Homo sapiens: one gene and its partner. The protein of the gene in region 2 interacts with the protein of the main gene of each other region in a pairwise test. Each region holds a gene or a part of one and is shown on either strand. Other genes may lie near its edges.

Region 1 (4,514 bases), on a different chromosome or scaffold from region 2:
CAGTGGCCACCATCCCTGTCCCCTGGGGTGGGTGCTGGGTCCATGACTGAGGCTCCTCAGCAGCAAACAGGTGGCAGCAGTTGGTTGGTGGCATGCAGGGCGGAGGAGGACAAGACAGTGAGAAGGAACACGGTGTCTCTGAGGATTAGCTGAGTGGGCACTTGGCTCTGGGAGCTCAGGCATGGAATGCTCTAGGGACAGCTGCAGGGGGTCAAGAATGCTTGGCAGCTCCAGGTGGCCAAGGAGAGACAGCTGAGCAGCCAAGGATCCTGGACAGGGCCCCCACTCTGCCCTGTGATAAGCCTGGCTGTTCCCCACTTGTTCACAGCCTCCTCTCCCTCTTCTCTCCAGGAAATCCCCTTCTCTCCTGCCAGAGGAATTTGAATGGAGAAGTGGGTGCTGAGTCTGGCTGGGTCCATCAATGCTGGGCCTCAGGGGCCTCTCAGAGTCTGAGCTCCCTGGTTCCCTGGGGAAGGCCCAGCACCGTCCCAACCAAGAAGCCTTCCTGGCACCTCCAGGACTAGGGTCGACACAGCCATAATGCAGCTGCCTGGTGGGGCCACATCTCACCTAGAGCCAAAGGCTGGGAATTAGGGTTGGGAGGCTTGGGTTTTGGGTGCCACCAGAGAAGATGCTCTGCAGTGCAGTGGGACATGAGTGGTCCTGTGTAGGCATCAGACTCTGGGACTGCCAATAAAAGGCTGGGTGACCTCAAGGGATGCCCTGGGCTCCTTGGGATCTCCTTGGGCCTTGATAATCTATGAATCTAAGCTCCCTAACCCCATGGTTCCCATGTCTCTCAGGCCTCAGAGCTGAGCATTTCCTTTCGAATCCAGACTTGACCCCTCCTGTGGATCCCCTCTCCTTCTGGAGGCCTTGTCTAGAGCTACCAGAAATCATCCATCCCCTAGTGGAGGAGCAAGAAGGAAGGTGGAGAAGGCTTCAGGCCACCTGCCTGCCTGTGTCTCTCCTCACCCTGGGGGACTGTGCTGTCCCCAGAGACCTCAGATCAGACCAAATGACTCACTGTCATTAACAGACTGAAACCCGATCAGCTCCGGGAGGGGAGCGAGGGGAGGATTGAGGCTAATGCACCTTGCAAATAGAAATATTAGCAATGGGGATGGCAGCTGGCCTGCGGGGCCCCAGTGAGGTATGCCCTCTGCAATGGAGAAGTCTTCATGGGCCTTTTGCAGACCTTCTTTTTCTTTCCACTAGGGCCATGGTGGAACAAGGGGCAAGCAGCGCCTTCTCTCTGTTTCAAGACCTTTGAGAGAATCTGGAACCCAGGCCACAGGAAATGGGCAGAAAATGAGCATTTATGGCCACTGGAGAGATTGAGATTAGATGGGAGATAGAACAGATGGACTCTTAGCATTGAGCAGGTGACCCAGGGAACTTGACCTTTTGTTTCTGAGCCCCTTTCTCAAGGCGTGGGGGCTGGACCACTCAGGGAAATGGCTTCTTAGACCTCCAGAGGCCCCTTACTGCTGAGGAACCTGGAACTTTCTTAAGGCAAGATGGTGATAGCGTGTGGCTTGTGCATGTGAGCGTGGGACGGGGGAAATGACTGCCTGGTTCCCTCTACCTGCTGGCCTCAGTTTCTCCATTAGATAAGGTGTTTGGGAAGGGCTGGGTAGCTGAAGGCCAGGATGGGCTTTACCAATGTTCTCTCGGATGTGGATGGGCTGGTCCAGCATGGCCGGCGGGCCAGCCCCTGCAGAACTCACTGCAGACACGCGCAGGAGGAACTTGTCTCCCAGAGCCAGGTTCCGCACAGTCTGCTGGGTCACCATCATGGGCCGGGCACTCACAGGCACCCACTCCGAGGCTGAGGGGATGGAGAGAGTGTGAGGTCTTTGCAATGTGGCCACAGGCGCCCCTCTCCATGGGGCTTCTTTTCCTGCTGGTGATCTGGGGAAATCAGCCTCCCTCTCTGGGCCTCATTTTCCCCTTGTTTGCCTTCCCTGACTTCTTGTCAAATGGCATCAAAGACACCTGATGTTAGAGCCCTGAAATTGTGGCTAGAGATGAGGTTGTTGAAGCCCAGAGAGGGTTGGACACATTTGCAAAGTCACACAGCAAGGTAGGGGCAGAGGCAGAGGCCAGGCTGGACTTGGGCCATGGAGGGGGACAGTGGCAGCAGGGATGTGGCCCCCACACCCCCACCCCATTCCCGCTTTCTCCTCACTGTCTCTTACGCTAACATTCCCCTCTCCAGCTCCTCCCTTTCCACTTCCTACAGTTCGGGGTCCTCTGAGACTTAGCACTTCCTTCCCTTCTCACCAAAGGAGAACCCAGTGTCCCCTTACCCTTCCCTTACTCAGAAGCTCCTTGGAGCTGAGGACAAGGGAGCCCCTCAACCCACCCACCTACCCTTTCTTGCTCTCCTGCTGGTGGAGCAAGAAAGGGCAGGTGGGTGGGTTGAGGAGCCTACTGCTCGCATCCCCTCCTTCTGTATCTCTCCCAGACTGACCAACCACAGGGCCTGTGCACTTGTCCCTGCAGCCCTCCATGACAACCTCCCCTGGGTGTATGCAAGACTTAGCCCAGCACTCACCTCCCTCTCTGCAGAGCTCCAGCACATAGCCCTGGAGGCCCAGCCTCCCCAGCCTCTCTGGGGGCTCCCAGCTCACAGTCACAGAGCTGCTGCTCACATCATCCAGGGTCAGCAGCAGTGGGGCACTGGGGACATCTGGGGAGATGAAGAGGTTCATGGCCAAGAGCTCCCCTCCACCCCTGACATGCCTGCCTCCCTCCTCCCCCTGCCCCACCTTCAGTCACCTTCACTTGGGGGTGCAGGCTTAGTGGCTGTGGAGGCTGTAGGGGCCTGTGGGGCAGGGGCCTGCGGCTTGGGCACCTGCTCTTCTCTGGTGGACTCTGATACTGCCACTTCTCCGGGAGGCTCTGCTGTGGGCACCTTGGCAGATTCAGATGCGGTCTCCTCTGGACTGCAGGCAGGGCCCTCGGAGGTGTTTTTTTCCATCATTGCTGGACTGGCTGGGGGGCCAGGGTGGAGTGTGCAGGGGTCAGCCGTTGGGGGGCCTGGGCCTCTAGGGTGCCTGGGACACCTAGGTCCAGGCTTATATAGTCAGGGGCTGCCCCACCCCCAGCAAACGATTCCCAGCTGTGGGGTCAGGTCAAGCAGGAGGACTGGAGGGTGGAGAGGCGCCCAGGCCAGGAATAGCTCTGGGGGAGGAACCACAAGGGCCCCTTGAGGAGTCACTTCCTCATCCATCTCCCCGACTGGCCTTCAACAGCCAGGGTGCTGGTGCCCAGCTGGGGGAGGGCGCAGATGGGTGAGATGGGACATCGAGCAGGCCGCGTGCCAGGTGTCAGGGCAATAGGAGGAAGAACTTCTATCTGGAGAATGAGCCCAGCTCAGGCTCTGTGTGTCTGGCGTCTATGGGGCCACTTGTTCCCAGAGCTTCTCAGACTGGGTGCTGGGGCCCTGACAGTTTGGGACAATCGTCCTTGTGAGCACTCCCAGCTTTGCCTCTGGGGTCCACATTCCCTGGGCTCCCACAGTTCCCAGGGACTCTCGCCTGTGCTGTATGAGGCTGAGGGCCCTAGAGAGGGAGGGAATTGAGATGCTGAGGGTGGAGCTGCTCAGAGGATGGTCCTCCAGCATTGGAACCCCAGGAAGGGGCACTAAGTCTCCTGGCTCCTGTCTCAGTTGGGCGGCTGGTAAGGAGCTCGTCTCCCCTGATGCCTGCTGTGGGCCTCAGTTTTCCACCTGTTACAGAGAACCCCTCGCCCTTCGGGATGGGTTGCAGTTGTAGGCAGATCTGGAAGATGCCCTAGTGGAGGAGAGCACTCTGAAGCTTCTAGACTCTTCCAAGCAGGCTGTGGGCATGGGCTTTCTCAGTGTGCCAAAGGAGGCAGATATGGCCAGATTTCTAGTCATTGATTCATTTGTTCGATAAAATGTTAAGACTGGGAATCACTGGAAAGCCAGAAAATGCCATGTGTCAGGAAGGAGGGAGAACATTAAGAACTTTTATTGCTGGTATTGGAGCAGTCACTCTGGAAAATGTGAGAGTTTTACTAGTGCCTAGTAAAATGGATGAGGTGCCTACTCCGTGACCCAGCCGTGCCGCTCATATAACACCCACACATGCCCCAGGAGACATGGAGAAGAAGGTTCATGGCAATGTTATTTGTAATTGTTGAAATGTGGGGGAAAACAGCTGTCCCTCAACAGTGGGATGGATAAATAACTGTGGAGTGTTTATGCAACTGTAAAGCAAAATATGGGGTCAAATGAGCAACTTCAGCTACTCACAGACCCAGTGATGAGCAGAAGAGCAAGGCACACAGAAATGTTGCGTCTCATCTGTCTCATCTACATTAAATCCAAATGCAGTCAACACCAGGCTCCCTTCTTCAAGGTACATCCGTAGGCGGTAAGGCCAGAAAGGAAGATGAGGCCAGTACAAAAGTTAGGATGGCGATTGCCTCTAGGTGGAGGAACAGGGATATCTGTGATCGTGAGGGCTGCAGGGGTGCTAATG
Region 2 (3,806 bases):
GTTCTTTATCTTTTCATACCCACTCCATCCCTCCTCATGGTAGAGTATTGAGAGCTCAGCACGTGAAATGCTAAGAATGCTAAAAGCAGCATGATCTAGTGCAGTGATTGTCAAGTATTTTGTAGACTTTTTTTTTTCCAGATGGAAACACTGTTCAAATTAAATTTCCTGCAGAAACATGGTGTATATAAAAACACAAGCTTCTCTGATTAATGAGAACAGAGCTCTTTGCCCTCAGCACCCCACATCACCATGGCAGCTACTGAGGCACCTCAAAGGAACCTCTACAACCCTGCAAAGTATAGATTGAAAAAGGACACGGATTAGTGGCATGGTCAGTGGGTGAGCCATCAGAACACTGGGCTGGAATCCCAGCCCTGCCCCTCATATAAGAAATATCCTCTCTGGCCGGGCACGGTGGCTCACGCCTGTAATCCCAGCACTTTAGGAGGCCGAAGCAGGCAGATCACAAGGTCAGGAGATCAAGACCATCCTGGCTAACTGGGTGAAACCCCATCTCTACTAAAGATACAAAAAAATTAGCTGGGTGTGGTGGTGGGTGCCTGTAGTCCCAGCTACTTGGGAGGCTGAGGCAGGAAAATGGTGTGAACATGGGAGGTGGAGCTTGCAGTGAGCCAAGATCAAGCCACTGCACTCCAGGCTGGGTGACAGAGTGAGACTGTCTCAAAAAAAACCAAAAATATCCTCTCTGGCCTCAGTTTACTCATCCTTTAATGGTAAAATCTGCTTTCCCTCCTCATAGGGCTCTTGTGGGGATCAAATGAGATACTGAATGCAAAATCATACTGCAAAAACATTTAAGATGCTACACAAACAAGGGATATTTTCAAGACATGCTCGTGCAAGTGACAAGGATATGAAAAGGACGGAGAGCGGCTGCTGCATGGTGCCAACACTGTGGATGCGGTGCACCTGTAGGGAAAGCCGGGGGAAGGCAAGGCTGTGGGGATTGAGGCTGCAATGCAGAGAACAACTGGGCAGGCAGAGCCTCTCGGAGCAGAAAAGCAGCCCGCCTGGACTCATGCACCACTGCCCTTCCATGCTGCTCATCTAGGACAGCTCAAGCAGATAGACCCGTGGAAACGGCTCCCCAGCTTTGGCTCCCAGCAGGCCCCAGAGGCCTTGGCTTGCTCTGCCTTCTAAGCAGTGTCTTGCTCAAGCAGCTGAAGCTTGTGGGGATCCCAGAGCAAATGGAGGTCACAGTCTGAGGGGGGATGTGTAGGATGGATATGGTGTGGCCATGGAGCATCCCTGCCAGGCACACACTGGCAGGCCCGAGTGTGGGTCTGGACAACACAGGCCTTGAAGTGTAGGGGGCTGGCATCAGAGAAAGAGGGCAAGAAACACAGGTTTTGGAGTAAACAGACATGGTTTCCAGTTCCATTTTCCCCACTCATTAGTTCTGTTCCTTGGGCAAGTTCACTTCTTTGAGTCTATCTCACCTGTGAAAGGGGAAAAATAACAGCACCTACTTTGTAGATACTGTTATAATTGGGGGGGAAAAAAAAGAGAGGGACTGACCCCAAGCACAGTGCCTGGAATGTGGTAGTGCCTGAGGAGTGTCAGCTCTGGTCTGGGCCAGCACCAGTACCTGGAGGACCCCTGTGATGGATCCATCACCACCAGGCACCACCAGAAATGCTAGCACCAAATCTGATGGTGTATGATGGCCTCTTGTGGTTCAGGACACGGACTCTGGACCCAGACTGCCTGGCTCTAAGTACTGGCTCTGCCCCTCTCTGGCTGTGTGGCCTTGGGCAAGTTAGTCAAGTCTGTACCTTTTCTCCCTCTGAAAATGGGGATAGTTATAGTACTAATCTCATAGGGCTGTTGTGAGGAAGGAATTAATCATGGAAAGCACCTAAAAGAGTGCTTGGCACGTAGCCTTCCCCCAGCAAATCGTAGTTGTCATTACTGCACGCTCGGCCCCAGCAGAAGCTCAGGAAGGAGGGGGAGGAAGAGGCAAGTCTGGTGCATGGATGCATATGAGCTCACACATGCACACTTCACATGCATGCACATACATATGCATGAGTACACACACTTCATGCTCTCTACCCACACACCTACCTTGGTTTTTTTCTTTTTCTGCATAAGAAAAGGAAACAGTAAATGCAGAATAAGTGAAAAGTAAGTTCTCAGAACCGCCAGTGGCTTTTGGCTTCCCTGTATCCTGGTCTTTAGCTTGGGGTGGGGCTCCAGGGTCCAGAAATCTGAATCACATGGAGCCAAAAAGGGGCATGGAGGGTGAAGGGAGAAGAGAATTCTTCTTTCTCCTCCATGCCCAGACACCAGTGACTGCTCTGACTTTGTTTTTATAATCTACTCTTACTGCATATGGCAAGGAAAAAGATCTTCTGGCTAAGGTTTTCTTTCTTCCTTTTTTAAAAAATGAAATTGGTGGCCGGGCGTGCTGGCTCATGCCTGTAATCCCAGCACTTTGGGAGGCTGAGGTGGGCGGATTATCTGAGGTCAGTAGTTCAGGACTATCCTGGCCAACATGGTGAAACCCCATCTCGACTAAAAAATACAAAAATTATCCAGGCGTGATGGTGGGCACCTGTAATCTCAGCTACTCAGGAGGCTGAGGCAGGAGAATTGCTTGAACCCGGGAGGCGGAGGTTGCAGTGAGCTGAGATCATGCCATTGCACTCCAGCCTGGGTGACAAGAGTGAAACTCCGTCTCAAAAATAAACAAATAAATAAATAATAAAAAAATGAAATTGGTTACTAAAACACCAAAAACATGGCTCTCTCAAACTGACCTAACAATGGATTTTGACTTACAGAATATTTTTTAAAAATTTTTGAGCAAGCATTTAACATAGGGAGATTTTCTTTGGTAAAAGCCCCAGCTGTGGCAGGCTGCCCTGGGCCTGTAATCCCTGCGGCAACTATCAGCTGAGCCAAGGGCCCTGCTCCCTGTGTCTTCCAGATTGCCCCACGCCCCAACATTCCTGTTGACCCTCGACACTGGAGCGAAATGTCAATTGAGAACTGCAGACAACTGTGTCAGTGCAGGGACATCAAAACCCCTGCACCTGCCTGCTCTACTCACGTGACGTGCCAGCTCCCATAAGCTTTTGGGTTTGCAGGTCCTGATCAATACTGCACACCGATGACCAGCATCCAGATGACCAGAACAGATCCCCACACACCTACCACTAAAACCAATCGCCTGTGGTCATTCAGAAGGCACTTGGAGACCTGGCACTGGCTCAGGGTCAGGATTATGACCATGACTGTCACTGCCCAGAAGACAGTTCAGAGGGGCATTTGTCCTCCCATTGGCCTACGTCATCCCCACAGAGCACAAAGGACTGTCAGCTGACTACAGCCCAAAGCCCCAAGGCAGTCACAAGACTCCTCAACACACAGAGCCCAACACACAGCACTCTGTGCTTCGGACTTTGGGCTTCTCACTGCCTGGGGCTGGCCTCAGCGTGGAGGTGCGGAAAAACCTAAGTCTGGAGTCAGAGAGTCTGAATGTGAGTTCCAACCCTGCCACTTACTGAGCTCTGTGAACTCAGAGAAGTCATTCAACCCCATTGAGCCTCTGCTTCCTTTCTTGAACACCAGGGATTATAACCCCATCTACCTCTCAGCAACCTTGCAAGTATCGCGATGACACATGTGAAAAGTACCTTGTAAGGTGTAAAGTGTGAAAAAGCACCTCTGTTTGAGTGCCCATGCTGTGCCAGACACTTCACATACATCACCTCATTGATGAAGCCTCACAAAAGCCTTGCAAGGCACATTATCATCCCCGTTTTACTGAGTAGGAA

What was found.
Region 1: the proteins of CAPN3 (region 2) and MYBPH interact in a two-hybrid assay, tested with the Homo sapiens proteins (one large-scale study listed by BioGRID and IntAct).

What each region holds. Positions count from the first base shown.
Region 1 is NC_000001.11:203,172,767-203,177,280, forward strand, and holds the start of MYBPH (myosin-binding protein H), read right to left. Parts: upstream 3,061-4,514; 5' UTR 3,001-3,060; coding exon of another isoform or gene 2,990-3,000; coding exon 2,785-2,989; intron 2,696-2,784; coding exon 2,561-2,695; intron 1,832-2,560; coding exon 1,664-1,831; intron 1-1,663. UniProt on the Homo sapiens protein: Binds to myosin; probably involved in interaction with thick myofilaments in the A-band.
Region 2 is NC_000015.10:42,404,229-42,408,034, reverse strand, and holds part of CAPN3 (calpain-3), read right to left. Parts: intron 3,272-3,806; exon of another isoform or gene 3,080-3,271; intron 2,110-3,079; coding exon 2,092-2,109; intron 1-2,091. UniProt on the Homo sapiens protein: Calcium-regulated non-lysosomal thiol-protease. Proteolytically cleaves CTBP1 at 'His-409'. Mediates, with UTP25, the proteasome-independent degradation of p53/TP53.